7 linked regions of the Homo sapiens genome follow. The protein of the gene in region 4 interacts with the protein of the main gene of each other region in a pairwise test. Each region holds a gene or a part of one and is shown on either strand. Other genes may lie near its edges. The genes, in order: HDAC4, ATP5PO, ZNF20, CCDC136, HMG20B, JMY and SHFL.

Region 1 (4,234 bases), on a different chromosome or scaffold from region 4:
CTGCAGAAAACTCATCGTACAAAAATAAAAACAAAAATAATTAAAAACCTTTGAAAGGTAAAAAAAAATGTACAAGCAAGAATTCAGAAAGGAAAAAGATTTAGACATTATTACCATTCAGAAAATTGCTAAATGGTGAGGAAAAATGTAAAATTCATAAAACAATGCTTATTCAGGATCTTTTTGTGAAAAAATTCATACAAAAATCAACAGCAAATTTATATTCTTTGCTATAAAAACTCATTAGGTACATATGTGCATGAAGGCTTGGAGACGGGAGCGGTTCTGTTAGAAAATAATTAAAATGAAAGTACAAACTTGTAGGGTAGTTGCCCAGTGGCGAATGTGTTGGCGATCTGAAATCTAGCCAATCTGGAGCTTGAGAAAACATGAATTTCAATCAATCAGGATCCCTTTCCATAAGCACCTTGAGAGCAAATTCACAAGCCATCCATTTGCAGGGACCTTCGCAATCTGCATTCATTTTATATATATATATATACTTTTTCTATAAATGCATTATAAATATTTTATCAAGATTTCATAAGAATCAAGTAAGTTTCTTAGCTTGGAATACATTGGAATATATATTATACATATATATATTTATTTATACCTAAAATTTAAGCAATACTTCATGCTACTTGCTTTTAATAAAAAGCATTCCGATCGTAACACTGCAAGTGTGCCTACCACATGCTTCACGACCAGATGGAGATGCTCAATCGTATGTGACGTGTGAGAACACTTTGGATTCGTTTAAAATTTGTTGGACTTCAAAACCTCCAACGGGATTTGCCACTTTTTTGGAACTACCTCCATTTTTCTTAAACAGCAATAAAGCAAAACAGGGACCGCCGGGCTGCAGCCCCTGGCCCCGGAGATGACGGCTGGTGCCCGTGCTTGAGGCGTCAGGCCAGCTCGCGGTGCCAGCACTGCCAGGCTCGGCTGGCCACAGGAAACTGTCCCACCGATTCCTGCTGTTTGTTTTTTCTTAAGGCATTGTTCCTCAGACTTCAGAAAACCCAGCCACAAAAATCCACCAGAGCAATAAAAAAAAAGGCACAAACTCGCATCTTCCGATGGCTTTTGAGAAACTCAAGCCAGCTCCCCCAGCTCACATTCCTGTTTCTGTCCAGTTTTGTTTTCTTTAAAGGTCCCTCTGTCCCCCACCCGGGTGCAGACCCCCCGCCGCACACCGCTATGGTTCACAGAGGCGGGCCACAGCCGTAGAAAACGTCCTCTTTAAAAAAAAATAAGCTACAAGATGAGTCGAGTGGTTTACACAGAGACTGTGGAGTTGTGGGTAATAAACTTTAAGCACCAGTTTTAATCAAGTTTGTTTTGTATTATTAGATCTTTGATATTTGTTTTCTGTGCCTCGTGTCAACTGAATTCGGCAGCTCGGCCGCCTGTTGCCACAGGCTCCTTTCTTCCACGGCGTCCCTTGCGGGACCCGCCAGAGTGTGCTTGGCTTCCGCGTGTCCGTGTGTCTGCGCGTCGCCGGCGTCTGTCCCGTGTTCCCTGTGAGGCTGCCACGCCCAGGCGTGCATGTGCGTCTCGAGACCTGTGGGCCTGGGCGGCAGAAAGGCTTCCCGTGGCTGTTGCACGCTGGGTGTCCCTGGGTGCTCCAAGAGAGCCCCACGGTGGGACGCAGGCGTGACACGGGAAAGTTTCTTGGCTGAGCTTCAAGACAGAGACAGACAGACAAGAGAACAGCAGCTTCGAGGGAGTGCTACAGGGGCGGCTCCTCTTCCATGGGCTCCTCATCTGGTCTGTGGATCCCGCAAGAGAAGGAGATGGGGGCGTGGGGCAGGTGCACCACAGAGAGGAGAGAACAGAACGTGGGTTAAAGGCTGTGTGCTGCCCCACCCGCCAGCCTAGCCCTGGCCTGGCAGCCCCGGGTCCATCTGTTCAGGATCTAATGCTCCTCATGCGTCTCTAAGGGGCTTTGGCACTGGAAGGAGGGGGCCACACTGGCCTGTCTCTAGTCTGTTGGGCAGGGCATGTGCCATAAAGGTTCTGACCCTGAATAGTGTGTCAGTGGGCACAGTGGGGCTGGGTGAGCCTGCAGGCGGGCGGCAGGGCAGGTGCTCACCTCTTTTCGGCGGGCTTCACGCCCACGGACAGCGAGGCCATGGCGGTGACCGTCTCGGCTTCTTCGTTCTCGCAAGTCTGAGCCTCGATCAGAGAACGCCCCGCTGTGGAGGTTGTGCGCTGCAGGCAGCGCCAGTACTTGCCTGGGGTGGTGGGGTGAGGAAAGTCGCTCAGTGACTACAACTTAGCAGGATGCACTGAGGCCCGGGAAGGTCCTGCGGGACCCTGAGCCTCAAACCAGATTGATCCCTTATGATTTTAAAAGCACCCGTCTTTGAAGAGACACGAAGCAGAAGACTGCATGGCTACAAACTCACAAAGACCCAAAAAATCTCTGGAAATGTTTCCCCATTGTGAGTGGCTCGAGTCCCTCCAGGAGCAGGCCCACCTAGGACTGCAGAGGGAGGCTCCTGTAGGCCTGGCTTTCCACGCTCACGGGCCCCTTTCTGCCCTGGGTGGCCAGGGCAGGGGGCTGCCAGCCTGCTGGGTTGAGCCTTCCTATCTCTGGGAGCAGGTGAGCTGGGGGATTGTCGCTGGGGCTGAGGGGTCTTCTGCCTGGGCCCTCACAGAGGCTGGGGGTGGAGGGGTACTGCGTCAGGCGCAAGGGGGTGTATGTGGAGGGCTGGGCCTGGCCCAGGGTCAGCTTCAGGGCTCTGAAGCCAGGACTCCCTCACACAGGGAAACGGGGAGCTGAGCTCTGGACTACCCCTGCTTCTGTGGACAGTCTCAACCATCTGGGTCATCTCAAAGGCAAGACAAGCTGGGCTTGCGACAATGACAGGGTGTGGGAGGCGCCTCTGAGATAGGCTGCGTGCCACGCCCTTGCACCCAGGACCTGCTGCTTGAGGGTCGGTGCCAGAACTCAGAGGGCCTACACCCTGCCTCTCTGCAGGGCCAAGGGTTCTTTGAGGTCAGGACGTGGGCTTCTCTGGTCCAGGGAAGAGGCCGGAGTCCCCAGGGTACAGGCTCACAGCCATGGCCCCCGCTGCTAGCTGGGGACCTAGAGCAAGTGACTCCACACTGAGACTGTCTGGGCCTTGATTCTCTAGACTTACAAATTGGGCTGATGGAACCATCCCAGCAGGCCGGGGGAAATCCAGTCGGGGTTAAATGTGAGTCTCTACCAGCTCAAGAAATGCAGCTGAAAGCAAGGCCTTCTGCTGCAGGCCTGGGGAAGCAGCCGGCAGTGGGATGGAGAAGAGCTGGGGGTATAGGGGGACAGGGATGGGGTGTGGTGCAGTCCCACCCCCAGGGGCGTGTCCCCTGTGAGCACCCAGCCAGGCAACTTACTGTGGATCTCCATGACTTTCTCCATGGAACGGACAGCGTTTGCATTGGGTCTTTGCTGTAAAACCTTTTCTGGGAGAGGATCAAGCTGGAAGAAAATGCATAAGAATATAAAGACTGCCAATATAATCCACACGTGCGTTAGACGGGTGTTCCGAGACTGCAACTGTTTCCTGAGCACAGAGACCCTTGTGGGGTGCATTTGCCCACAGAGTAGAAAAAAATAACTTTAAAAAGCCAAATGTGCCGTGGTATTTATAATTTTTTTGTAAAAGTGGATTTTTTTTTAGGACGCTATAAGATATTTGTGGGTTCCTACAAGTAGCAGGAAGAAAGACAGTCCCCAGGAGTGGGGCTGGCACCTGCACGTGAACTTGGTATCTGCCATCGACGCCACAGGGTTCCATGAGGGGGAGTGACGCTTACTTCATCACTTTTCTTTCCTTTGTCTTTTATTAATAAGTAAGAATGTCTGAATATCCCCTGATCTTGGTTTTCTTCCAGGGCAGCGGAAGGTGGGGTCGGGGGAGATGAAATGGAAGAAGTAGTCAGATCTCTCAGAGGGAATCCTTCACACCGAGTTTTTCCCTAAGTACTGGCAGCAGATAAAAGCAGGGAAGAAGTTTACAAGTCAATGACAGGGCAACAGGGCAAAGCATTTGCAACACAACAATTAAAAATGGTTGACTGGCCGGGCGTGGTGGCTCACGCCTGTAATCCCAGTACTTTGGGAGGCCGAGGCGGGTGGATCACTTGAGGTCAGGCGTTCCAGACCAGCCTGGGCAACGTGGTGAAACTCTGTCTCTACTAAAAATACAAAACTTAGCCAGGTATGGCGGTGGGCACCTGT
Region 2 (4,234 bases), on a different chromosome or scaffold from region 4:
CCAAATGTACCCAAGAATGCAAATGTATCCAAGGATCAAGGTATAGCCACAGGCCACGAACCATTTTCTTGGTAGGTATCACACTGGCCGCCTCCACAGTTGAAACTACTGACTATACAATTAGACATGCTTAGGTCCTAGTATCCTTTAGACGATGCTCCTCACACTTCAATGTGCAAACGATTCACTTAGGGAGCTGGTTAAGATACAGACTCTGATTCAGCAGGTTGCTGTGAGGCCTGAGATTCTTCACTGCCAACAGGCTCCCAGGTGATGCTGATGCCGCCCACAGTCCATGGACCACATTTCCAGTCATAGTTTCAAGACACCTCAAATGAAAAAGTTCTAATACTCACTGATCAGATTGGTAGTGAGGGGAGAGAACCTCTCTTTTGCTGTGATGTCATTTAGGCTTTTCACTTTAATGGAACGCTTCACATAGGGATTCAAAACAGAAGCAGCCACTTTGGGTTCCTTCAGGATTTGCTGAAAGCATCAAAAAATAATTTCTTAAATTTTTTAGAGCACAAATGAAGGATGTGCCATGCACACACTTTCTTTCTTTCTTTTTTGGAGACAACGTCTTGCTCCGTCGCTCAGGCTGGAGTGCAGTGGCGCAATCTTGGCTCACACAACCTCCACATCCCGGGTTCAAGCGATTATCCTGCCTCAGCCTCCCGAATAGCTGCACCACCATGTCCCGCTAATTTTTGTATTTTTAGTAGAAACGGGGTTTCGCCATGTTGACCAGGCTGGTCTTAAACTCCTGACCTCGAGTGATCCACCCACCTCGGCCTCCCAAAGTGCTGCGATTACAGGCATGAGCCACTGTGCCCGGCCATACAAACACTTTCTTATGAATTAAATATTTTATGAATTAAATTAGCACTGCCGAAGAACATATGAAAAAAAGATTATAATCAAACAATTTTCTGACTGCCTTTCAGAATACACTGTGCACTGCACCAGGATTTTATATAGAATGATGTTCCTCAAAAAAATTTAAAAATACTGTACGAACTTTCTTAAATTTGTTTTTGCTTTTCAAGAAAGATTATAAAACACTAAACAGCCAAACCTTCATTAGACTGCATACTTTAATATATTTAAGAGAGGAGTCGTCTGGTTTTCTAGCAGTGCTATTTCTAGAGTGCAGACCTCACAACTGTGCTCTGACCACAGAGGCCTCCGCACCGCTCCCTTGGAGGGGCCCTGCCTCTTACAGAGTCCAGGGAACCCAGCAGATTCTGTGAGGCCTCTGGTGCTGCCAGAGCGGCCCCAAAGAGTCTGGGAGACAGAGTGGACAATAAAACAGGAGCACAACCATCATGGGAAACAACGTTCTTCTCATTTTGTTGTATCACAGTGTCTGAATTCAGTGACCAAGTGCAGCTTCCAGCATGTTGCTCCAGAGTTCCAACAAACGAACAGCAGTTTCCAGTTGAGCACCTTCAGTTAACACACCTCTCTATGCTTTTCAATTACGCTCCTAGCACCTCCTCCCAGGCTCCTGGCCAGAATCCTGCCTCTGATCCAGGATACTGGTCAGATACTATCATCCAATGCTAACATTTCCACTTGAGTGACCCCACAGAAATGACATTTTTCCATAAAAAATGCAGGAATATACAGATTTAAAGCATTCTGGAATTTGGGTTACCTAGTTTTTCATGTTTATCTGTGTCTCCTGCATCATCCAGAGGACAGTGCGTATCCTTGTATCATCCTTCCCTCTTAGTGCCAAAACCCTGCTAATATTCAGTGTCTTAAGGTAATTGCCTCCCTTTTTCTCCATGTCTCGACTGACTTCCAGGCTTTAGACAAACTCTATTCTAATATCCACAATCCAAGTAATTCTCTCCATTGTAAACATGATTGTTTCCGTTTAAAATGGGCATAACTGACAAGTAGCAGACAATAACCATCACCTCCAAAAATGCCTGTGTGAGACCCCGTCTGTTCCTGCATGCCCTTCCCCCAAATGTCTCCAACAACAGGGCTGGGCTCCTGGGCTCTGAGAGAATCATAAGAGTTTATCACACCAGCTAAGACCTTAAGCATTATCTGCAGAGATAAATGGATCAAGGAAGGAATATGGAGCTAAAATTATTCTGCCTGTTAAGACGGAAGTTCCAATAGAAGCTCAAGTGAAAAATGAATAAAACATAAACAGTACAGAACAGTAATACTTATAGACTATACATACGATGATTAATATAGAACGTAAGTATTATTACTCTATACAACTGGCCTATGAATTGTTTTTTCTAAACAATAAAAACTTGCAGATATGTGAATTAAAGAATGAAGAATCTTAAAATGAAGAAAAAACCAAACTTCCTCTGAAGAGGCTATATACCAGACTGCGTCTCCCTCACCTTTTTTAATGCAGACCTTACTGCCAGTGGTGGCGCTAGAAAATCGAAGGAAGCAACAGAATGTGTAGAAACTTGTTAACTAGAAAATTCGGTGAAAACGAAAGCAGACATTCTCCTATTCAGTTACAATGTAGGCTTCTGGTAATACGGTTTATTTATTCTGCTTTTCATGTTTAAAAAAAAAAGTAAAAAACATCTTGCAGCAGCCTCACAGTCTTTGCCTGTCAGTCCTCTACTACTACTGGGAAGCCCATGCCCCTTTACTAACTCTGCTGCCCAGCGCGCCCCACCCTGTTATTCTTCCCTCACATTTTGGGAACAAAATAATTAAGAGGTTTACCAAAACAATGAAAAGGTCTACATGGTTACTTCTGGGGTTCTGGCAATTGCAAAGGCATCTCTACCAAATGAAAACAACCTGTAAGACATATCTGAGCCTCCTCTGATTCTACAAGCATAGAATATGGCAATTAAAACCTGAGGAAAAGGTTTCATGAAAACAAATTCTCAGTAAAACCAAATCACAATATATTCTAAACACCTAGCCCATAAGCATAGGTTTTTTTTTTTTTTTTTTTTTTTTGAGACGGAGTCTCGTACCGTCCGGGGCTGGAGTGCAATGGCGCGATCTCGGCTCACTGCAACCTCGGCTTCCCAGGTTCAAGCAATTCTGCCTCAGCCTCCGGAGTAGCTGGGATTACAGGTGTTCACTACCACGTCCCGCTAATTTTTTGTATTTTTTAGTAGAGATGGGGTTTCACTATGTCAGCTAGGCTGGTCTTGAACTCATGACCTCCTGATCTGCCTGCCTCAGCCTCCCAAAGTACTGGGATTACAGGCGTGAGCACTGTGCCCAGTTATAAGCATAGATTTTTAAAGGTAGCTTTTAAATTCTCTTCTGAAATAGCAATTTTCCTAAATTACCATCCATTTTAATCTTATATTTCTACCTTTTCTTAGCCCCTAATCTTGGTTCCTAATATTAATATCCTTATATGTATCTGTTTGTTCTTTTTATATGTCTTATAATAAAAACCCAATATTATTACTAAAAATGTGTTTACAGACAATGGCTTTTTCCCAGTTTTTTCTTGTAGGATACACCTCATTAGGAATGCACAAACAACCAAAGGAAAAAATATACAAACAGGAACTTCATATGTAATGAATAGGAAAGCTACTTACTGCTACTCTCAACAACTCCTTTTCTACTTGCTCCAGCTTATTCTGTTTTGATGCAGCAGAATAAAGAGCTGTGGCATAGCGACCTTCAATACCGTATACCTGAACAGGAGGCTTTAAAAAAAAGGTGAAATAGGAGAGGAAAGAAAAAGGAAAATCAGTTAATAGTATACTCTCAAGAGCAGAATTTAAAATTTATATTTTAAAAAATGTATCTCTTTAACACAAAACAGTTTAAATATGTCATTCAAGAGCTGTCCTAAATGGCAATTTGCAAATAAATTAGCGATGTTTCCTTGGTCAGGTCACTCAATCTTTGAGCCTCCAATTCCTCATCTGTAAAATGAGGGGCTTAGTAGGCATTGTCTAAAGTCCCTTCCAGGTTTACATACCTTTATCAATTACTTGTACTTTAATTTTGAGATAAGCTTATGTTTCCTTTGAACTCAGTAACTATTTAGTTTCAAGTATGGGAGGTTGTGAACACTGATAGACAGTTTCGAGTATGTTAGAGCTAGGAAAACAGGTGTTTATGAAACACACAAGTATACTTTTATACATTTCATACTAACACTACACATTTTCCCTTACATAGCCTCCCTATCGATGTTCAGTGTAACAGAGCCCTTTGGCAGTTTACAAAAAAACCTGATGCTTGAATTATTTTTCACAAT
Region 3 (3,985 bases), on a different chromosome or scaffold from region 4:
ACTGAAATAAGCTTTTGTGAAGAGAAGCACCCATGACACCTTAAAGGAAATGATCGGATTGTTCCATGCATGACTTTTCCACGATGTCATTAGCTTCATAATATTAGCATAAGAGGGTTCCTGACAAGTTTGCATCAACAGCATGTTACCAGAGAAAGAAAGACTTGATTGGAATAGTGATGCTGACTTTGTTCTTTACTGGGCAGGAAATTCAGTTTTCAAAAACATATTGGCCCCATAGGACTCAAGGTGATTTTTTTAAAAAAGTAGTAGCCAATTGTGGTGGCTCATGTCTGTAATCCCAGAACTTGGGGAGATGGAGACAGAAGAATCACATGATCCAGCAGTCAATGACCAGCCTGGGAAACAGGGAGACTCCATCTCTACAAAAAATAAATAAATAAAATCATAGTATATACCTTGATAAGAAGTGAATTTATAGATTTTAACTGAGGTATGTTATGGTTAACAATGTCCATAAATTGTAGGGAATATATCAGGGTTTAGAGAATAGTATGGTAAAAACTGGTCCAGAAGTCTGATGGCTGGCCTCCCCTCGCCAGAAGGCCGAGTCTTTTGCCCCTGAACAGGCACATGTCATACACCTGCAATGTGAGATGATGCTCTTCAGTGACCATGATGGATCAATACAAAAATAACTAATTCTTGGCAGGGCACAGTGGCTCATGCCTGTAATCCCAGCACTTTGGGAGGCCGAGGCGGGTGGATCACGAAGTCAGGAGATCGAGACCATGGTGAAACCCTGTCTCTACTAAAAATACAAAAAATTAGCCAGGCGCGGTGGCGGGCACCTGTAGTCCCAGTTACTTGGGAGGTTGAGGCAGGAGAATGGCGTGAACCAGGAAGCGGAGCTTGCAATGAGCCGAGATCGAGTCACTGCACTCCAGCCTGGGCGACAGAGCAAGACTCCGTCTCAAAAAAAAAAAAATTAAAATAAAAAAAAACCTCATTCTTTAACCATGTCTTGAAATGTGACAGAAGAAAACACTTTAAATTGCAAACATACCCCAAATTTTTCTCTTCTCACGAAATGTGACTATCTTTTAATATCTCACACATCTCACAGTCATCTATGGCTTTTGGTCATATTCATTACCACAGTATATTATTACACCCTCTTTGACGACACTTATGCCACTGGTGGTCTTTGGTCAGAAGTCACTCATAAGAACATGAGATCACCTTTGGTATTTAGAATAGATGAAAATTCATGATCCAGATAAAAACTAAGAATATAAGCATGAAAAGTAAAATCTACATGAGGAAAAATATGCCTGACATCCACATGGCAACACTGACTCACAGTGACCACCGGATAACATGGTAACATTATCAACTTGATCTAATACATGATGTTAATGGGAGGTTGTAATGTAGCTTCTTCATTAAAAAATAATAATTGTTAGTATGCAGTTGTTATAAACAGTTAATAAGCTTATTTCTAAAATACATGAACAGAAGTATTTGTTGCCAAGAAACCGCATTAGTGTTTTTAGTCAGGTATACTCATACAAAGTTAAAAACGAAGTGAGACATTACATTCAGTTGTGAATAACAGCAAATGCTTGAAATTTCCTGATAAGAGCAAGGTGGCTCTTCTCACATAAAAGCCCTTGGTGAGACCAATCACTGCACAATGCAGCAGAGGAACAAGCTCCCATCTAGTTGGTTTAATCAAGAACAGGCTCGCTAATCCGTAGAAACAACAATGCTTGCAATACAAAGTAGACCTCTTAAACCAACTCAATCTATAGAAGAGTTGGGCATCAGTGAGTATTTCCAGCCATAACAACATTTATTAGTTCTCTGGTAAACATTTTAACATTTCTGAAGAAACAGCAAAGTGGGCATGTATCTTTAATGTGGAGCACTGGGGACATATCTGGAGACCTACAACTCTGAGGAACAGAGACAAGTGATTTGGGGGATATTCTCGATTAACAAGCCAAAGAATCAGGAAAATGGGCTGGAAGCGGGTAGCCACACACCTCTCTCCCTGTGTGGGGCCTCTAATATGTGACTGATGCCTTCCTTTTCTGTGCCTTTGAAATCTCATGCAAGATTGGCTATAGGTGAATTGTATTACGAAACCATCCAAGTTCTTCTAGATTTTATTGTCCTATCGCAAGTCTCTCTTCTCAATTCAAAAAGCAGTTATCCAGAGGTTCTTTCACCACTCTCTTTTCTTGTGTTTCAAAGGAAGTGGGACAACAGAAAGCTTCTCCCGTTGCTTCCACTAAAAGGATTTCTCATCTATTAATGGTATGAGTTCTTTCATGTTCTCGACATGAACTGGCACGAATAAAGGCTTTGCCACATTGCTTGCATTGATAGGGTTTCTCTCCAGTGTGAGTCCTTTCATGATATCGAATGTAATTGGAAATAAAGGCCTTACCACAGTGCTTACATTCATAGGGTTTCTCTCCAGTGTGAGTCCTTTCATGATATCGAATGGAACTGGAACAAGTGAAGGCTTTGCCACATACCTTACACTCATATGGCTTATCTCCAGTGTGTGTCCTTTCATGTATATGCAAGGAAGAGAAATACCTGAATGCTTTTCCACATTGCTTACATTCATGGGGCTTCTCTCCAGTGTGCGTCCTTTCATGTATACGCAAGGAAGAAAAATACTTGAATACTTTTCCACATTCCTTACATTCATGGGGTTTCTCTCCACTGTGCGTCCTTTCATGAATTTGAAGTTGTGAAGCACATCTAAAGCCTTTCCCACACTGCTTACATCCATAGGGTTTATCCTCAGTGTGTGTCTTTTCATGCCTTTGAAGGTCCGAGGTACATCTGAAGGCTTTACCACATTGCCTACATTCATAGGGTTTCTCTCCAGTGTGAGTCCTTCCATGCTTTTGAAGGTGTGAGCCACATCTAAAGGCTTTCCCACACTGCTTACATTCATAGGGTTTCTCTCCAGTGTGAGTCATCTTATGATACTGAATGGAACTGAAAGAAATGAAGACTTTCCCACATTGCTTACACTCATAGGGTTTTTCTCCAGTGTGAGACCTTTTATGTCTACGAATTTCACTAGGAAAACTGAATGCATTCCCACATTCTTTACATTCATCGGCATTCACTCCTGTGTGAGTTCTTTCATGTACTGGAAGGGTAGTGGAACGAGTAAAGGCCTTACCACATTGTTTACACTTATATGGTTTCACACCAGTGTGAATTCGTTCATGGATAAGACATAAATTGAGAAAATAGAAGGCTTTCCCACAAAACTTACATTTATAAGGTCCATCTCCACTGTGCATTACCCTGTGTCTTTGAATGCATGAATGGGAAATGAAGGTTTCTGTACATTCTTTACCATCATAGGGTTTCTCTTTAGTGCAAGCTTTATCATGTGATTGAAAGGAGTCAAGATAACTGAAGGCTTTCTTACATTCCTTATTTCTATATGGATTCTCTCCATATTCCTGATACTCAGATGACTTGTGTCCAGTGTCAGCTCTGATATGCGTATTAAGAGATGAATGACCCGTGCCAACTTCTCCACACACACTGCTTTCACATGGTGTTATTCCAGGAAGAGTTTTCCTGTTCAGCATGTCATCTGCAATCTGGTTGAAGCTTTCTCCACAGTGATGACTTTCTTTACTTTCACAGAGTTTCTCTCTCATAAGACTTCAGTGAAAAATGAGAAGCACATTATTAACGGTTTGATTAAAAGTGACTTATAGGGCCGGGCACAGTGGCTCACTCCTGTAATCCCAGCACTTTGGGAGGCTGAGGTGGGCAGATCACCTGAGGTCAGGAGTTTGAGACCATCCTGGCCAACATGGTGAAACCCCGTCTCTACTAAAAATGCAAAAATTAGCTGGGCGTGGTGGCAGGTGCCTGTAATCCCAGCTACTCGGGAGCCTGAGTTGGGAGAATCGCCTGAACCCCAGAGGCAGAGGTTGCAGTGAGCTGAGATTGCGCCATTGTGCTCTAGCCTGGG
Region 4 (4,234 bases):
TTACCTGGGTGACACTGTGGGAGGTCTGAAACCGAAGCACCTCATTCTGAGCACACTTGAGCTCCCTCTGCAGCCGCCTCTGCTCCTCCTCACTGACCTGGCGATGATGCTGTAGCTCTTCCAACTCACAACACAATTCCTGACACTATGTGGGAAATGGAACAGGGAGGCTTGTTTACTACAGATACCACATATGCTCCAAGAACAAGCTTGGGGAAAGCATGGCGCTCTTTGACTGGAAGATTTACATCAGGCAAGTGAGACCCCAGAGTACTATCTCCCTCCACAGTGGATGCCTATGGAGATGTTTCTACCACAGGCTGGGAGAAGGTGAAAGAAAGACAAGAAATGTGCCTGCCTTCCCCACCCTCTGTGCCCTACCTTGTTCTTCATGCCATGCATCTGCTCTTCAGCATCCCGTAGCTGCTGCCGTAACAACTGCATTTCAGGATCAGGCTCTAAGAAATCCATTTCTGAAGTCTGAGACTCTGCTGACGTCATACTCAGTGTTTGGGACTGCAGCCATCTCTCTGTTGCTCTCTGTGTCCTGCAATTCAGAACCGCAGAGCTATGCTTGAAGGGAGTTCTGCCTGGCATCACCAGCCATGCAGGCTTTGTCCTGATACCTTCATTTTAGGCCAAAGATAGTAAGGGGCCTTCTATTGTGACTCACCGCTCAGATAAACATGCTTAAAAGACTACAGAAAGTCTCCAGCCCCTCAATCTGCAAAGGTGTGTTTGGCTCTGGGAGACCCTTAGAGTGCCAGTCCAGTTAGTTTTGAGGCTAGGCCTAGTCAAGCCCACTCCAATCTGGAAGCATTGTGCCTGCCATTAGACTGAAACAAGTCTATGCAGACAATAAAAGAATCTCTTCTGATCCACTTTAGGGCAGAGCAAACCAGAACCCAGTGCCTAGAGCAGAAGTAAACTTCAGAACTCACTCCCTCTAGTCTTGAGATAATTGGGTCGGATCCCCATGTCTGCTTGTAGGTGGTATCTGTATCCTTTGGAAACCATGGAAAGGACTGGGTCTCCAGGAGCAAAGGAACGCTCACTGCCCTGGCATCTGCCTTCAGGGAAAGCCCAAGGTAAGGCAGAGTCCTGTGGAACCCCATGACCTCTCACTCTCCAGAGACAGCTGTACCTCTCACTCTCCAGATCTGCAAGCTGCCCCGTGAGGCTGCTGTTGCTCTCCTGCAGGGCCCGGTATTCCTCATTCAGGAAATGGTAGCGTTCCCGCAGCTCCTGCAGTTCTTCTGCAGAGGACAGGCAGAGAGAGATGAGACCGGGAGGAAAGGAAAGCACTGATGACCAGCCCCCAGTTTTCCTGTCTTGAAACCTGAGAGCAGAAGGTTAAAGAGCTTCTCTTTTTCTAAAGACAGAAAAAAGGTAGAGGCTTAGAAGACAGGGCCCAGGAAATTCCACAGTGCAGTGAGTCTTTCTCCTCTTCCCAATAGCTGTCCTTCTTCTCATCTGCCCTGAAGATTTACCCTGTGTGCTCATCTTCAAAGCCTCAACCGAAGCAGACTCTTGAACTTTTAGCAATTTTTGAAAGTTTAATTAACTTTCAAATTTTTACTGTATGTAAAAACTTTCAAAAGTTTACTGTATGTAAAATTTCCATTCAACTGTTTATGATTACCTTCCAATTATGCTTTTAGTACAAAAAGCTGAGAGATGTGAACTGTCAGATGTGACTGCCAGTACCTGCCTTTCAGGCATTCTGAGTTTCCTTTTATGTTCTTTATTCCCACACCAAATACATTGGTCTGGATGTGGTAAAGAATTCTTGCCAGGTGTAGTGGCTCAAGCCTGTAATCCCAACACTTTGGGAGGCCGAGGTGGGCAGATCACTTGAGGTCAGGAGTTTGAGACCAGCCTGGCCAATATGGCAAAACCCCTGTCTCTACTAAAAATACAAAAAGTAACCAGGCGTGGCGGTGCATGCCTGTAGTCCCAGCTACTCAGGAGGTTGAAGTAGGAGAATTGCTTAAACCCTGGAGGCAGAGGTTACAGTGAGCCAAGACTGTGCCACTGCACTCCAGCCTGGGTGACAGAGTGAGACTCTGTCTCAAAAAAAAAAAAAAAAAGGAATTCTTTCTAATGGCCTTTTATCTGCTGACAGGCCCATCCTAACCAGACTCACATATCATCCTCAAGCATTAGAAGAGATCCGGTTGAAATACTCCAGCACATGTCTCTAAGCACCAGTCACCTATACCTATACTTTTTCCTTTTTGGTTTTGTTTTGTTTTGAGATAGTCTTACTCTGCCATCCAGACCAGAGTGCAGTGGCACAGTCATGGCTCACTGCATCCTTGACCTCCCTGGACTCAGGTGATCCTCCCACCTCGGCCTCCCAAGTACCTGTGACTACAGGCACACACCACCAAGCCTGGCTAATTTTTGAATTTTTTTGTAAAGATGGGGTTCCGCCACATTGCCCAGGCTGGTTTCAAATTCCTGGGCTCAAGTGATCCACCTGCCTCGGCCTCCCAAAGTGGTGGGAGTACAGGCATGAGTCACCATGCCCACTTTTAAGGCTGTGATGATACAAACACCTGTATCTGTTTTGTTGCTTCATGACTAAGAATTATGTTGGCCGGGTGCAGTGGTTTACACCTGTGATCCCAACATTTTGGAAGGCCAAGGTAGAAGGATCATTAGAGCCCAGGAGTTCGAGACCAGCCTGGGTAACAGAGCAAGACTCTGTGTCCACTAGCAAAAAATTGAAAAAGAATTATGTCTCTTAGAACATTAATTCTACTGATATTTAAAGAACACTAACTTGCTCTAATTAGAACACAAGACCTATCTTACCTGCTGGAAGATTCAACACCCTAAAAGTAACTTCTAATGTTTCCTCTTAATTCTAATCAGAATTCCTTAGAATACTGCAGATTACCATATAAGGGAGGAAGGAAACTAATCTTTAATGAAAACTAACCATGCGCTAAGCATTAGACTTGATAGTTTCAGCCTCAGATTTGGTAAGTGTGCAAGTGATTTCAACATGCTTCACATTTCATTTAATTCCCAAAATAGCTCTGTAAGGTTTTTTTCTTCTTTAAATAAACTTTGAATTTTAGAATAGTTTTAGATTTACAAAAAAGTTGCAAAGGTAGTACGGAGTTTCCTGGGAGGGTTCTCACCCAATTTCCCTAATTGTCAACATCTTACATTACCATGATATACCTGTCATGACTAAGGAATCAAATATTGATACATTACTATTAACTAAACTCCATAGTTTACTTGGATTTCTCTACATTTTCCCTAAGGTCCTTTTCCTGTTTCAGGATCCCATCTAGCTATAAGGTTTTATTAACCAATTTTGATTTCATATCCTGGATATAGAAACAGGCTCAGAGAAAGACCATAACCAGACCTCCTACGTTCATCCTGCTAATTAGTGGAGCTGAGATACTGAACTCAGGTCTGTTTGACTCCAGCCCAAGCCTTCCCACTGTGCCAACCTTCTTCTCCCAGCACCATTTAATCTAAAGGCTCTTCTGAGAGGCTTGATACAGCTGGAAAAACTTGCAGTTCTTTGATTCCTTGTTGATTGCCTCTGCTTGACCTGGCCAAATATAGGACCTCCATTATACTCAGATTATAAATCTAGCCTCAGAATAAAGGCAAACTCTCTGATGTCATGAATCCTAGCAACTAGCTGGGAGACTCACTGTCTGAAAGCAGGGCTCTAGGCTTTTGGGTACCTCATGTATCACTCAGAATAACTTTTCTTCTCTAGCTGTCTTTTGTTCCGATTTGTTGCCCCCCAAAGCTTCTATTTTGAGGAGAGCTAATGGAACCTAAGAATTAGCATCCCTGCACCTGGAAGCAGGGCCAGAGGCCCCCTATAAAGCATTCCAGGCAAAGCACCATGATGCCAGGGCAGCAGGAAGAGTTTCCCAAGGTGACAGGTCCCTCTTTGCCCATCCTAGAGCTGGAAATTTTCCCAGGAAGGGTTTTCCCATAGTCAAATCAACAAAGACCCAATGACTCTCTGAAGAATTCCCAGGGTACCTCTCCATGGTGCTATTTCTTACACCACCATGGACTGGTTATGTAACATCTGGGTAGGTTTTTCCCCTTTACTGTCTTTTTAAAATTTTTATTTAAATTTTTCTTTTAGAAAGAGATAGGGTCTCACTTCATTGCCCAGGCTGCTCATGAATGCCTGGGCTCGAGTGATCCTCCCATCTTGGCCTCCCAAAGTTCTGGGATTACA
Region 5 (4,374 bases), on a different chromosome or scaffold from region 4:
ATTTGTGGGTGCCAGGAGCTGGGGAGGGGATGAGAGTGACTGTTGATGAGGACAGGACTTCCTCTGGGGGTGATGAGAATGCGTTGAGATTAGATAAAGGTGATGACTGCACAAAATTGTGATGTACTAAATGCCACTGAATTGTGCATTTTAAAATGGCTAAAATGGCCAGGCGCGGTGGCTCACGCCTGTAATCCCAGGGTTTGGGAGGCTGAAGCAGGAGGATTGCTTGAGCCCAGGAGTTCAAGGCTGCAGTGAGCTATGATCGGGCCACTGCGCTCCAGCCTGGGTGGCAGAGTGAGACCGCGTCTCCAATAAATAAACAAAATGGCTATGATGGTAAGGTTCATGTTGCGTATTTTACACAATAAACAAAACCGTGGCCCACCCAAAGTCACTGTGCTACAAAGTGGACTTGAACCCCCGTGCGGACACAAGTTGAAGGATGAACTGAGCAGCCGTGACTGTCCCCTGTGCTTCAAGTCCCCCACGTGTGCTGAGCCCACAATGCCCAACTTTAGGTAGGGGAGGGATGGAGACACCTGCCCAGCCATTGACTTGCTCTGTGAACCCCGGCAAGTTTGGGCTCCCGTCTCCCTATCTGAGAAACTCTGAGGCTCTGCTAGAGGTAAAGAGAGCAGGCCTGGCGCCCCCAGCAGGGAATGTCATGGGGGGCCCAGGCTGCACCTTCTGAACCCTCCACACCACCCCAAACAAGCTTACACACTCACAAGCTTAAAACACAAATTTTACTTGTTTTTATTTAAAAAGTCCGGATCCAGCAGTGAGAAGGAGCCACCCCCACCAGGGTCCCTCGGCTGGAGGAGAGCAGGATGGGCAAAGCCGGCCCCCACCCATCTGGGGTACAGGCATGCGGGGGACACCCCAGGTAAGTCCCCACAAGGCAGCTTCCTGTGTGGCCTATGGCACAGCCCCCCGTAGTGAGTAATTTGGGGGGTCCTGCCGTGTGCTGGGGGTGGGTTTCGTCTGCCCTGTGTCCTGGGGGTGGCCCGGAGAGCCAGTGTAGCGCGTGGCTGTCCTCCGAGGAGGGGCACCCTCGGCTGTGAGGTTCTTCTGGGTGTATCGCGCAGCGAGTGCTTTTTCCGGGTTCAGGGGGCTGGGGAGATTGAAAGCTAAAGGGATGCTGCAGAAATTTAATTTTAGGGGGGCTGGAGCCCCCAAGGTGCAGGATGGGACCAGGCCCCAAAGGGTGGACCCCCAGCCTCTCGTCCACGGGGTGGGGTGTGGCAGGGCCGCGCCCACAGCTTCTCCTCTGCATCGTGGGCCCGCCCACTCCTCACAGGTGCTCGCTGAAACGAGAGAGGAGGGCCCGGGATGAGGCCCTCATCATCTCTGGCCCCCACCCCGGCCCTGGGGAACCCCAGAGACCATGGCCCATCAGCTGCTCCAACAGATGCCAGGGTTGGGGGACAGGCGTTGAACCTATCTAACCCGGGCGCTGGGATCCACCCTGAGAAGCTTTAGGGAAGTTCTGGTGCCCCCGAGTGGGTCCCGCCGGCCCGGGGTTCTCCATGGCCATCCTAGCACTGGTGCATCAGGGGCGACCGCAGGTAGGCCCCTCCGGGAGGTGATCTCTAGTAAGCTGCGGAGTCCCACCCAGCAGCCCTCGCGGACCTGGGGAACCCCAGGGCGGGCACATCCGGGCCTTGAACCCCGGCCCCGCCCCGCCTCGCCCGGCACACACCTGGCGACCTGGGCCAGGATTTCCTTGATGCGGACGATGAGCTTCTCGTGCTGGGCGGGGTCGCGCTCGATGGCTCCGTGAAGCCGGGCCATGTAGAAGTCCAGAGTGCCCAGCGTGGGCGTTTCGCCCGTGCCTGGGGGACAGGCGGGAAGGTCAGGCGAGGGTGCCGGGGAGTCGCGGGGCGGGGGCTCCAGGGGCAGCGGTAGGGGGTGACTCAGGGCGGGTCGCGCGGGCGCTCAGAGGTCCGGACACCGCCAGCGCAGGAGCGGCGCAGGGTGGGCTAAGGTAAGCCGGGGCAGGAGGATGGCGAGGACGGGGACAGGGTGGGGACGCGGGGCTAGAGCGGCGGGCGTCCAGGGTCCGCTGAGGACAGTCACGGACGGAGGGAACGAGGTCGGGGAGGTGGGGATGACACCGGGGGGCTGGGGTCGCGTGGGACGTGACTGGGGTGGTGGAGGGGGCTCAGGCGTCAGCGGGGCGTGGGGAGGGATGGGTGACGGGGGCGTGGGGAGGTGGGGTGAATGGGAACGTGGCGTGGCGAGCGGGGAGGCTGGGTCAGTGCTCAGGCTGGTCGGGGGCTGGCGAGGGAGAGGGGCCAGCGACGGTGGGGCCGGTAGGGAGCGGTGGGGGCGCGAAGGGTGGGGGCACAAAGGGGCTGCGGGAGGAAGCGAGTAAGCGGGGACGCGTCGGGAGAGGTCGTGGCCGGGAGGCGCGGTCGGTGGGGGCGAGGTCAGGGAGCCGGCCGAGTAACGGGGCGCGGAGCGGAGCTCGGGTGTGGTCTGGGAAGAACCAGACGGAGCTATGGGGTAGGGGTGCGGGGGTCGGGGAGGAGGCGGAGCTGGGGGTGATGAGGGCGGGGCGATAGGCGGGGCCGGGTGACTGGGGAAGAGGGGACGGGGCGATGGGCGGCGCCGGGCGACAGGGGAAGGGGGGAAGGGAGGAGGGGGGGGGAGGCGGGCGGGGCCGGGTGACCGGGGCGGGACTGGGAGATGGGCGTGGCCCGCACCCGGCACCGGCAGTGAGGCGAAGCTGGCGGTGAGCGCCTGGCGCACGGCCTGGAGCTGCTGCTGCAGCGCCAGCGTCCTCCGCTCCTCCAGCGCCAGCTCCTGCTCCAGACGCTCGCGCGCGCTGCTCATGCTCTGCGTGTGCCTCTGCAGTACCGCGTTCTGCTCCTCGAAGGCCACATTCATCTTCCGCAAGCGCCGAAGCTCCGCCTCACGCGCTGCGCCGGGGGGAGCGGGGTCAAAGCCTGCGCCTCCCCTTTCCCCTACCTCCGGGCTTTTGCCCGGGACGTGCCCCTGCCCAGGTTTCCCTCACTGCGCCCTCTGCCTCCTGCTCCACATCAGCCTCTGGAGCGACAGCGTGCGCCTGGACGCTCATAGGGAACCTCCCGATCCGCCTCCTGCAGTCTTGGGGCCCTCCTGGCCCACGCCCCCCTCTACCACCCAGTTTCACGGAGTTCGCATCAGGAGCGCAGTTACCGCTCACCTTTGTTTTGGTCCAAGAACTCTTCAGTGAAGATGGGAACATCGAAGGTGGAGAAGCCATCGCAGTCCCCACCCTAAGACGAAGGGACAAGGTGGCAATTTACTGGTGGTAGGAGGCAGCCACGCTCTCTGGGTGTGCCCCAAGCCTAGGAGGGTCTCCTGGGACACCCCGGTGGGAGTACAATCAACAGCGATCCCACGGTGCAGTGGCACCGCCCCTGCTTGCACACATCTGGGCGAGCACTGGCTCTGACTCAGGGTTCTAGAAGCCTCCAGACCTTTCTCCCCCAGGTGCTTTGAGAGGAAGAAGGTCGCTTACCTTGTGTCCATTCAGGAGAGTGTTCATGAGCCCAGAGCTCGAGTCTTCTGGCGGGGGAGGGGAAGGGCAGGGTCAGCCTCCCAGGCCTCCAGGGACCACGCCCTGCACCCTAGGTCAGCGCTGCTCAGCCGGCTCCAGCTCCCCACTTGAGTGCCCCGCGTCTGGGCATCCCCCATCGCTGTACCGAGTGAGCCCCCTTCACTCCTGTCTGGCTATGTATCTTTCCCCCGCCCAACCCACGGGACTGTGCCCCACGGAGGGAGGCCCTGCCTGGGCTGAGGTCGCACCCCACAGAGCAGGACCCCAACTGCTCGCACCGGCCCCTCCCACCTTTCATTTTTCTTTTTCTTTTTTTTTTTTTTTTGAGACGGAGTCTCGCCCTGTCGCCCTGGCTAGAGTGCAATGGCGCAATCTTGGCTCACTGCAACCTCCACCTCCCGGGTTCAAGCAATTCTCCTGCCTCAGCCTCCCGAGTAGCTGGGATTACAGGCACCCGCCACCACGCCCAGGTAATTTTTGTATTTTTAGTAGAGGGGGAGGGTTTCACTATGTTGGCCAGGCTGGTCTGACCTCAGGTGATACACCCGCCTCGGCCTCCCAAAGTGCTGGGATGACAGGCGTGAGCCACCGCGCCCGACCCCTCCCACCTTTCTTGATCTTCTTCTCCTGGATCTTCTCCGTGCACATCTTATAGGCTTCAGACTGCTGGTACGCCCGCAGCTCCTTCATGTACTGCTGCTTCTCTCTCTCGGCCTCATCCAGGTACCGCTGGGGGGCAGCACCAGAAGGCTTGAAGCAGGGGAAGCCTCCAACGCCAGGATCCAGTCTTTATCACTCTGCTTTCACAGCACCCTCCCCTCTCC
Region 6 (4,234 bases), on a different chromosome or scaffold from region 4:
CCCCACAATTGGGCACTCTTCTCTAACATAAACCTATCCTTGCACCACTAGGCAACACCTTTCTCTAAAACATCACATTCAGACTGCCCTACCTCATGCTTGTCATAATTAATTCGAAATGAGTTATCCTAAATCAAAAGCAGTTATTGAGTGTTTGCATGCACGTGTAATCCCAGCTACTTGGGAGGCTGAAGCAAAAGAATTGCGTGAACTTGGAAGGCAGAGGTTGCAGTGAGCTGAGATACTGCCATTGTACTCCAGCCTGGGCAACAGAGTGAGACACTGTCTTTAAAAAAAAAAAAAAAAAGTCATTATTGAACTGACTGCATTTTAAAATAATACCACTCCCCAATTCTCAAGAGTAGAGATTGACATCCTTTCTCTTTAAGGAAGGAATACAGTCCCTTGGATTAAGAACCCCAACAGGCCACAGGCATGGCAGAAAAGGCACACGTTTGGATTAAGACAAATCTAGGCTTTCATCGGAGCTTGGTTACTCAGCTGTTTAGCCTTGGTGAAGTCCACAGGACCTCTTTAAGTCTCATTTTCTGCCTCAGTAAAATAGGTATAAAACACCCACTGATCTCAGCAGATAGTGAATAATAAATATTAGTTACAGTCCCCACAAAAAGGGCTGAATGGAAAACCAGATAATCCTTGTTACATGAAAAAAGGGAAAATAACACTTCCTGGAAGCCTCTTTAGTAAGTGCCAGGCACTTTGTTAGGCCCTTTCTCATACTGTCTTACTCAAATCTTAAGACATCCTTTATTTCCCCCACCTTCCTTTTTAAAAGAGGTTAAATAACTAAGCAGGTCATCAGAAGTGGTTAGTCCTATTTTCAACCTAGGTGTTTCTGACTCCACTCACTCAACAGGCTATTTATTATGTGGCTTACACGGATAATTTTGAAAACACATGCTACTTCCAAACCGTGGTTTCAACAGAAGAGAAGTTAGAATTGAGCACATCTTTATAAACATAATAAATTCCAAAATGAACACTGATGATTAGATCTTAATCAAGCCTACCATCATAATTAAGGTTTACTATCTAAAGCACCACAGTTAATCATCTTGAGAATAGCTGTCCTTATACAGAAACCATTATTTATAAAATCCAGGTCAAACCTAAGCTGCAGTATGGGCCACCAACGCACATACACTAATACAAACCTCAGCTCTGACCAACAACCAAGGCTACTGCTGAAAACTGTTCAAAGAGGTCTTGGTGGCACCTGCATTCATTTAAGGACTGATTCAGTGTCTACTGTATAAATACTGCTTCCAATAGTAAACTCTTGTAAAAGTCCAAATTCAAACATACCAGTAACAAATTTCACCTTTCACTTGGATTTAGCCCCTAAGAAGTATAATGTACATTATAGCATAAACATAACTTTTAAACGCACTGTGAAACCAAAACATTCCTGTGACTCACATTATTGCCTTTCTCTCTAAAATGCACACATGCCCACAGATATAAAACTCGGCAGGACGCCCCATTAAAATCCATCCATAGCCCCTCTTACAGGGAATTCACCATCCCCAAGTAAAAACCTCTTACTGAGGAATTTATTTATGTTTTAAGAAATTTTCCTTTGAAGTACTAAAAGAAAATTTCTCGTTTTAAAAACACTGTCCTTTGAGGAATTTACACTTATCAATTTATAAAAATTTTACTTACAACTTCACATTAAAAGGACACATCTTCTAAGTCCTTTAAATTCTTGCAATAGTAAGAATAAATTAATTTTAAAAACTTCTCTAGTTTCCTTTATCCACTAATTAAGAGTGCTCACAAGATGTGTGGTCCTGAACTAGGGGTGGCAAAGAAGAGAGTTCCAAGGTATTGTCAAAGCCAAGGACCTTGAAAAGCTTACAATCTAGTTGTACAGTCTGTTCTATTAAAAACAAACAAAAAAAAGTTCAACAACTTACTAACCATTTTGAACAAAAACAGGTGATTTTAAGTTGAAACCTTTAAATGGACAGGGAAAGGAATACTGTAGGAAAAAAGACCAAAAAATAGATTCATAGAAATTAAAGAAGGAAAAGGACTAAGTATTGTAAGTGACCAAAGGACTAAGCATTCTAACATATCCTCAAAAGTAACATATCCTCAAGAATGCATTTGATTTATCAGATAAACCTAGCTTGAAAAGCTATAGCCAATTCCACAAACTAAGTCAATAGAATAACACAAACATGGCACAACTTCTATAAAAATGTTACCTTAAAAAATGTTACTGCAAACTATTAAGAAAGCAAAGTTAAATTTAATTAGCTTAAGACAAATACATGGCTAGCATCCTATACACTTTCATTATCATGCCCATGGCAGACATCACCAATCAATCACACCACACTTCCCTCCCTCCCCCAATATAATCTAAAGACACAATCTTCCAGCAGAAGTCAAGATAGGCATTATTACTGAAACTATTTGTTGTCCTTGATGGCTATTTTTCAAATATTGAAGTTGCCGGGTGCAGTGGTTCACGCCTGTAATCCTAGCACTTTGGGAGGCCGAGGCAGTTAGATCACCTGAGGTCAGGAGTTCAAGACCAGCCTGGCCAACACTGGGAAACCCTGTCACTACAAAAATACAAAAATTAGCCAGGCATGGTAGCGGCGACTGTAATCACAGCTACTTGGGAGGCTGAGCAAGGAGAACTGCTTGAACCCGGGAGGTGGAGGTTGCAGTGAGCTGAGATTGCACCAGTACAGTCCAGCCTGGGCAATAGTGCAAAACTCTGTTTGGAGGGGGCGGGGGGAGGCTGGGTGCGGTGGCTCACGCCTGTAATTCTAGCACTTTGGGAAGCTGAGGCAGGCGGATCACCAGGTCAGGAGTTCGAGACCAGCTTGGCCAACATGGTAAAACCCCATCTCTACTAAAAATACAAAAATTAGCCGGACAAGGTGGCACACGCCTATAATCCCAGCTACTCAGGAGGCTGAGGGAGGAGAATCACTGGAACCCGGGAGGCAGAGGTTGCAGTGAGCCAAGATCGCGCCACTACACTTCAGCCTGGGCGACAGAGCGAGACTCCATCTCAAAAAAAAAAAGAAAGAAAAAAAGTATAATTTTCTGTTAAAGAAAATAAATCATTATGGTCAAGAGAACCTTAATTAGGAACACATTTTTTAAAAAATGTAATCCCCTTTTTAAAGAGTTCTAGAAAATTATATTTTTTGAGAGCTTATTTTTGACCCATTTGAATTAAAAAACCGGAGATAGTCGCTTTTTCTCTTTTTCTTTTTCTTTTCTTTTTTTTTTTTGAGACGGAGTCTCGCTCTGTCGCCCAGGCTCGAGTGCACTGGCATGATCTCAGCTCATTGCAAGCTACGCCTCCTGGGTTCACGCCATTCTCCTGCCTCAGCCTCCCAGTAGCTAGGACTACAGGTGCCCGCCACCACACCCGGCTAATTTTTTCTTTTGTATTTTTAGTAGAGACGGGGTTTCACCGTGTTAGCCAGGATGGTCTCGATCTCCTGACCTCGTGATCCGCCCGCCTCGGCCTCCCAAAGTGTTGGGATTACAGGCATGAGCCACCGCGACCGGCCTGACAGTCGCTTTTTCTGAGTATCCAAAAAGTTACAATCAGACAGGCCCATTCATTAAGGGATTTTTAAGAATATGTATTTTAAAAAATATATCTGTAAATCTAATAAGAGAAAGAAGCACTAACGGTTCTTGCAGTTTAAGAGAAATACAGGTCAATATTAACCAAACACTTCTGAGAATATATGTGGTCACTTAAGATTTGTCACTTCCTTCAAAATAATTTAAGGTAGACTCCCGAAGTGAGGTGATAAAAAAGGGAAATAAAAACAGATCCCTGGAACTCTAGGATCATGTTATAGTGGGTGACATTTAGCATACAGTAAACCAACAGGAAGCAGTGAAAATCTGGATTCGGGAAGTTGTAAGAGAGTACTATGGTATAAGTGAGAAACAAACATTTCTTAAATACTCAAATCTAATAAAGAAAAATATCTAATATTCTACGAAAAAAACATGAGGCTCTAGCTCCCTAATCTAACAACAAGGTTCAACTATTATATATACATAAGCAGATAACAACACAATCTTAGGAATATAAACACCATTAAAAGGGGCATTTCAGGCCGGGCACAGTGGCTCACGCCTGTAATCCCAGCACTTTGGGAGGCCGAGGCGGGCGGATCACGAGGTCAGGAGATCGAGACCATACTGGCCAAGATGGTGAAAC
Region 7 (2,947 bases), on a different chromosome or scaffold from region 4:
TGGACATTCAGGGGTGTTGAAGATACAGGAGACCTGGGGACATGGGGGTCACCTGAGATTACAGGGGACAAAACAGGGGCCCCAAACCCAGAGACCATGGGGGCAGAGGCCATGGGGACCCTCAGGCACGGGCCACTGGGGTGAAACCTCAGAGCCTCCTGGGCAAGACCACGGAGACTGGGGGGTCATGGAGGCCATGTGGAAGCAGTGGCTGCTGCTGTGGGAGACAAAGTGGACTGAGTGGAGATTTGGGGACTTAAAGGCACAGAAGGGGACAAAGACTGTCCAGGCTGTTGGGGGAGAAGAGCCTCACCTCGCCGGTTGTAGCAGTCGGCAGCTGAGCAGGAGTGAGTGTGGGTGCTGCGGCGATCCGGGTCCCGGTCCCAGCGCGGGGGGAGGATCCGTGTTGGATACACGGGGAAGCCGCACCCGTAGCAGGGGGACGGGGACCCCATCTGTGCCCAGCCCCTGGGGGCGGGCAGGGCTGTGAGGGTCCGAGGGCGAGGCTGGGCCAGGGTGGGGCCAGGGCAGGGAGGGGCAGGGCTGGGGTAGGGCAGGGCTGAGGGGGAGCTGGGGGTCAGCGCCCTCACCGGAAGTTGTGCCGACACTTCGGGCAGTGGAACTCAGCCAGGCCCCACATCTTGTCAGCTGGCACTGGCTCGTAGCGCTTCCGGCATTTCCGGCACCGGGATACCTGGTGGTGGTGGGCAGGAAGGTACAGAGAGGGGACCAAGGATTGTCAGAGGTGTCTGAGGTTGGGGTCAGGGCTAGCAGTGTGCTGCAGCGGCTGGCCTCAGCTTGAGCAACCCAACTCAATCAGTGACTTCACGTGGGTAGCCTGATATTGACCATGGTGGGAATATTTACACCACAGAAATTGGCAAACACTACACATCTTGGCTTCCTGCCTCTTTTGCAAGAACTAGTTAAGCATTGACCAGAAGTGAACTACTAGTCAGGAGGTTCAGAAGCCAGATTTGGGGCTGTGTTTTTGAGGTCAGATTTGGTTTCTTTTCTTTCTTTCTTTTTTTTTTTAGAGACAGAGTCTTGCTCTGTCACCCAGGCTGGAATGCAGTGTTGTGATCATGGCTTACTGCAGCCTCGACCTCCCAGGCTCAAACGATCCTCCCACCTCAGCCTCCTGAGTAGTTGGGACCACAGGCACACACCACCACTCCCAGCTAATTAAAAAAATTTTTTTTTGCCAGGCACAGTGGCTCATGCCTGTAATCCCAGCACTTTGGGAGGCTGAGGTGGTAGATTGCTTGAGCCCAGGAGTTTGAGACCAGCTTGGGCAACATGGCAAAACCCCATCTCCACACACACACACAAAATACAAAAATTAGCCAAGTGTGGTGGCGCAGGCCTGTAGTCCCAGCTGCTTGGGAGGTTGAGGTGGGAGGATCACCTGAGGCCAGGAGGTGGAGGCTGCAGTGAGCTATGATCCCGCCACTGCACTCCAGCCTGGGTGACAGGGCGAGACCCCCTGTCTTCAAAACACATTTTTTTTTGGAGACAGGGTCTCACCCTGTCACCCAGGCTGGTCTCAAACTCCTAAATTCAAGCGATCCTCCCTACTTAGCCTCCCAAAACACTGAGATTGCAGCCATGAGCCACTGCGCCTGGCCAGGTTTGATTTCTGTAGTAGCTGTTCAATTGTGGGTCAAGGGTCAGGTTCTGGGGTAAGGAGGTATTGGGCTTCTCACATTTAAGGTCAGAAGTCCAGTCCTGGGTCAGGGGTTGGGATCAGAGATCAAGGCTGAGCTCTGAGTTTGGAGGTCAGGGATTGGACTCTCAGTGATTGAAATCCTTAGGTCAGAGGTACAGTCACTGAGGATAGGAGTCAGGAGTGGAGTTCGGGACAGTCAAAGTCGAGGTTAAGTTTTAGGTCATCACCTCCTTCCGCTGGGGCACGCGGCGCCACCAGACGTGGTCGCAGGAGGAGCAGGCAAACTGCCGGTCCACAGCAGGGATAAGGTCGTCCTGGGCACGTTGAAACATGCGTAGGTTGGCTTCTGTCAGTGGCAGGAGGGAGGTCGCCACTGCCTGTGGAATGGGGCAGGTGGGGATGAGGTGGGGGGGTGTCACCCCTTCTGCACCAACATAAGCATCAGCCCTCCTCTCCCTACAGACGAGTCCTCTTCCTGCCCCAGTGAATATCTCCCCTCCTGCCCTAATGGACATCCTTCTGTGCCTGCAGATGTCCCCCTCCCAACTCCCCCATCCCAAGCCCTAGCCACCAACTCACCTGAATGTCCCGGTCCTGCTTCATATCTTCTGGTGGATCCTGGGTGGAGATAGCAGGGGCAGAAACTGGGGATGGGGCTCAGGCCTCTTTCCACCCGTTTGCTGGGGGAGGCCCCCGGCCGCAATGAGTAGGGTGCCCCTAACTCGCCAGAAGCTCACAGAGCACCACTCACTTATTGAGAGCCAGGTGTGTGGCCTCAGTTGTCCTCATAGCAGCCCTGAGAGGTGGGCACACCTGTTACCTTATTGCTCAGATGGGGAAACTGAGGCTTAGGGGAGGGCTTGCCTGAGTGAGGCTAGCCTGACCCCCATACTCACTTCCTGCCTGCAAATGCCACATGCTTGTTGATGTTGTGACATATCGCCCCTTTGAGGCCACGTTGTGCTCGGCTAAGTGGGAGAGAGATGTGGGTTCAAATCCCAGCTGTATCACTTCCAGCTGTGGGGACTTGGGCAAGCCACTCCCTGCCCCCTGGGTTCCCACTGACAGGCATGTTAGAGCCCAGGCTCTGACTCCAGGTGGCCAGGGTTCAAATCGCAGCTGCCCCTGCTTGCTGGCAAGTGACTTCGGCCTCAGTTTCTTTGTCTGTGAAATGGGGATAAATAATAGGACCTGTCTCCTGGGGTCACTGCAGTGATGAAATAAATAAATTCCTGGAATCTTGCCATGTGGGAAGTACTCAATGAATGCTACTCTCTG

What was found.
Region 1: the proteins of CCDC136 (region 4) and HDAC4 interact in binary tests that used the Homo sapiens proteins (3 or more experiments, as listed by UniProt).
Region 2: the proteins of CCDC136 (region 4) and ATP5PO interact in binary tests that used the Homo sapiens proteins (3 or more experiments, as listed by UniProt).
Region 3: the proteins of CCDC136 (region 4) and ZNF20 interact in binary tests that used the Homo sapiens proteins (3 or more experiments, as listed by UniProt).
Region 5: the proteins of CCDC136 (region 4) and HMG20B interact in binary tests that used the Homo sapiens proteins (3 or more experiments, as listed by UniProt).
Region 6: the proteins of CCDC136 (region 4) and JMY interact in binary tests that used the Homo sapiens proteins (3 or more experiments, as listed by UniProt).
Region 7: the proteins of CCDC136 (region 4) and SHFL interact in binary tests that used the Homo sapiens proteins (3 or more experiments, as listed by UniProt).

What each region holds. Positions count from the first base shown.
Region 1 is NC_000002.12:239,051,362-239,055,595, forward strand, and holds part of HDAC4 (histone deacetylase 4), read right to left. Parts: intron 3,473-4,234; coding exon 3,388-3,472; intron 2,241-3,387; coding exon 2,099-2,240; intron 1,776-2,098; coding exon 1,736-1,775; 3' UTR 1-1,735. UniProt on the Homo sapiens protein: Responsible for the deacetylation of lysine residues on the N-terminal part of the core histones (H2A, H2B, H3 and H4).
Region 2 is NC_000021.9:33,908,726-33,912,959, forward strand, and holds part of ATP5PO (ATP synthase peripheral stalk subunit OSCP, mitochondrial precursor), read right to left. Parts: intron 3,675-4,234; coding exon 3,564-3,674; intron 487-3,563; coding exon 357-486; intron 1-356. UniProt on the Homo sapiens protein: Subunit OSCP, of the mitochondrial membrane ATP synthase complex (F(1)F(0) ATP synthase or Complex V) that produces ATP from ADP in the presence of a proton gradient across the membrane which is generated by electron transport complexes of the respiratory chain.
Region 3 is NC_000019.10:12,130,317-12,134,301, forward strand, and holds the end of ZNF20 (zinc finger protein 20), read right to left. Parts: intron 3,670-3,985; coding exon 2,271-3,669; 3' UTR 1,034-2,270; downstream 1-1,033. UniProt on the Homo sapiens protein: May be involved in transcriptional regulation.
Region 4 is NC_000007.14:128,801,672-128,805,905, reverse strand, and holds part of CCDC136 (coiled-coil domain-containing protein 136), read right to left. Parts: intron 1,257-4,234; coding exon 1,145-1,256; intron 548-1,144; coding exon 382-547; intron 146-381; coding exon 5-145; intron 1-4. UniProt on the Homo sapiens protein: May play a role in acrosome formation in spermatogenesis and in fertilization.
Region 5 is NC_000019.10:3,575,445-3,579,818, reverse strand, and holds the end of HMG20B (SWI/SNF-related matrix-associated actin-dependent regulator of chromatin subfamily E member 1-related), read right to left. Parts: intron 4,280-4,374; coding exon 4,159-4,279; intron 3,559-4,158; coding exon 3,512-3,558; intron 3,267-3,511; coding exon 3,194-3,266; intron 2,928-3,193; coding exon 2,712-2,927; intron 1,839-2,711; coding exon 1,706-1,838; intron 1,311-1,705; coding exon 1,298-1,310; 3' UTR 736-1,297; downstream 1-735. UniProt on the Homo sapiens protein: Required for correct progression through G2 phase of the cell cycle and entry into mitosis. Required for RCOR1/CoREST mediated repression of neuronal specific gene promoters.
Region 6 is NC_000005.10:79,238,857-79,243,090, reverse strand, and holds part of JMY (junction-mediating and -regulatory protein), read right to left. Parts: intron 1-4,234. UniProt on the Homo sapiens protein: Acts both as a nuclear p53/TP53-cofactor and a cytoplasmic regulator of actin dynamics depending on conditions. In nucleus, acts as a cofactor that increases p53/TP53 response via its interaction with p300/EP300.
Region 7 is NC_000019.10:10,088,997-10,091,943, reverse strand, and holds part of SHFL (shiftless antiviral inhibitor of ribosomal frameshifting protein), read right to left. Parts: intron 2,834-2,947; coding exon of another isoform or gene 2,566-2,833; intron 2,466-2,565; coding exon of another isoform or gene 2,455-2,465; exon of another isoform or gene 2,294-2,454; intron 2,288-2,293; coding exon 2,249-2,287; intron 2,047-2,248; coding exon 1,897-2,046; intron 695-1,896; coding exon 591-694; exon of another isoform or gene 469-590; coding exon 314-468; intron 1-313.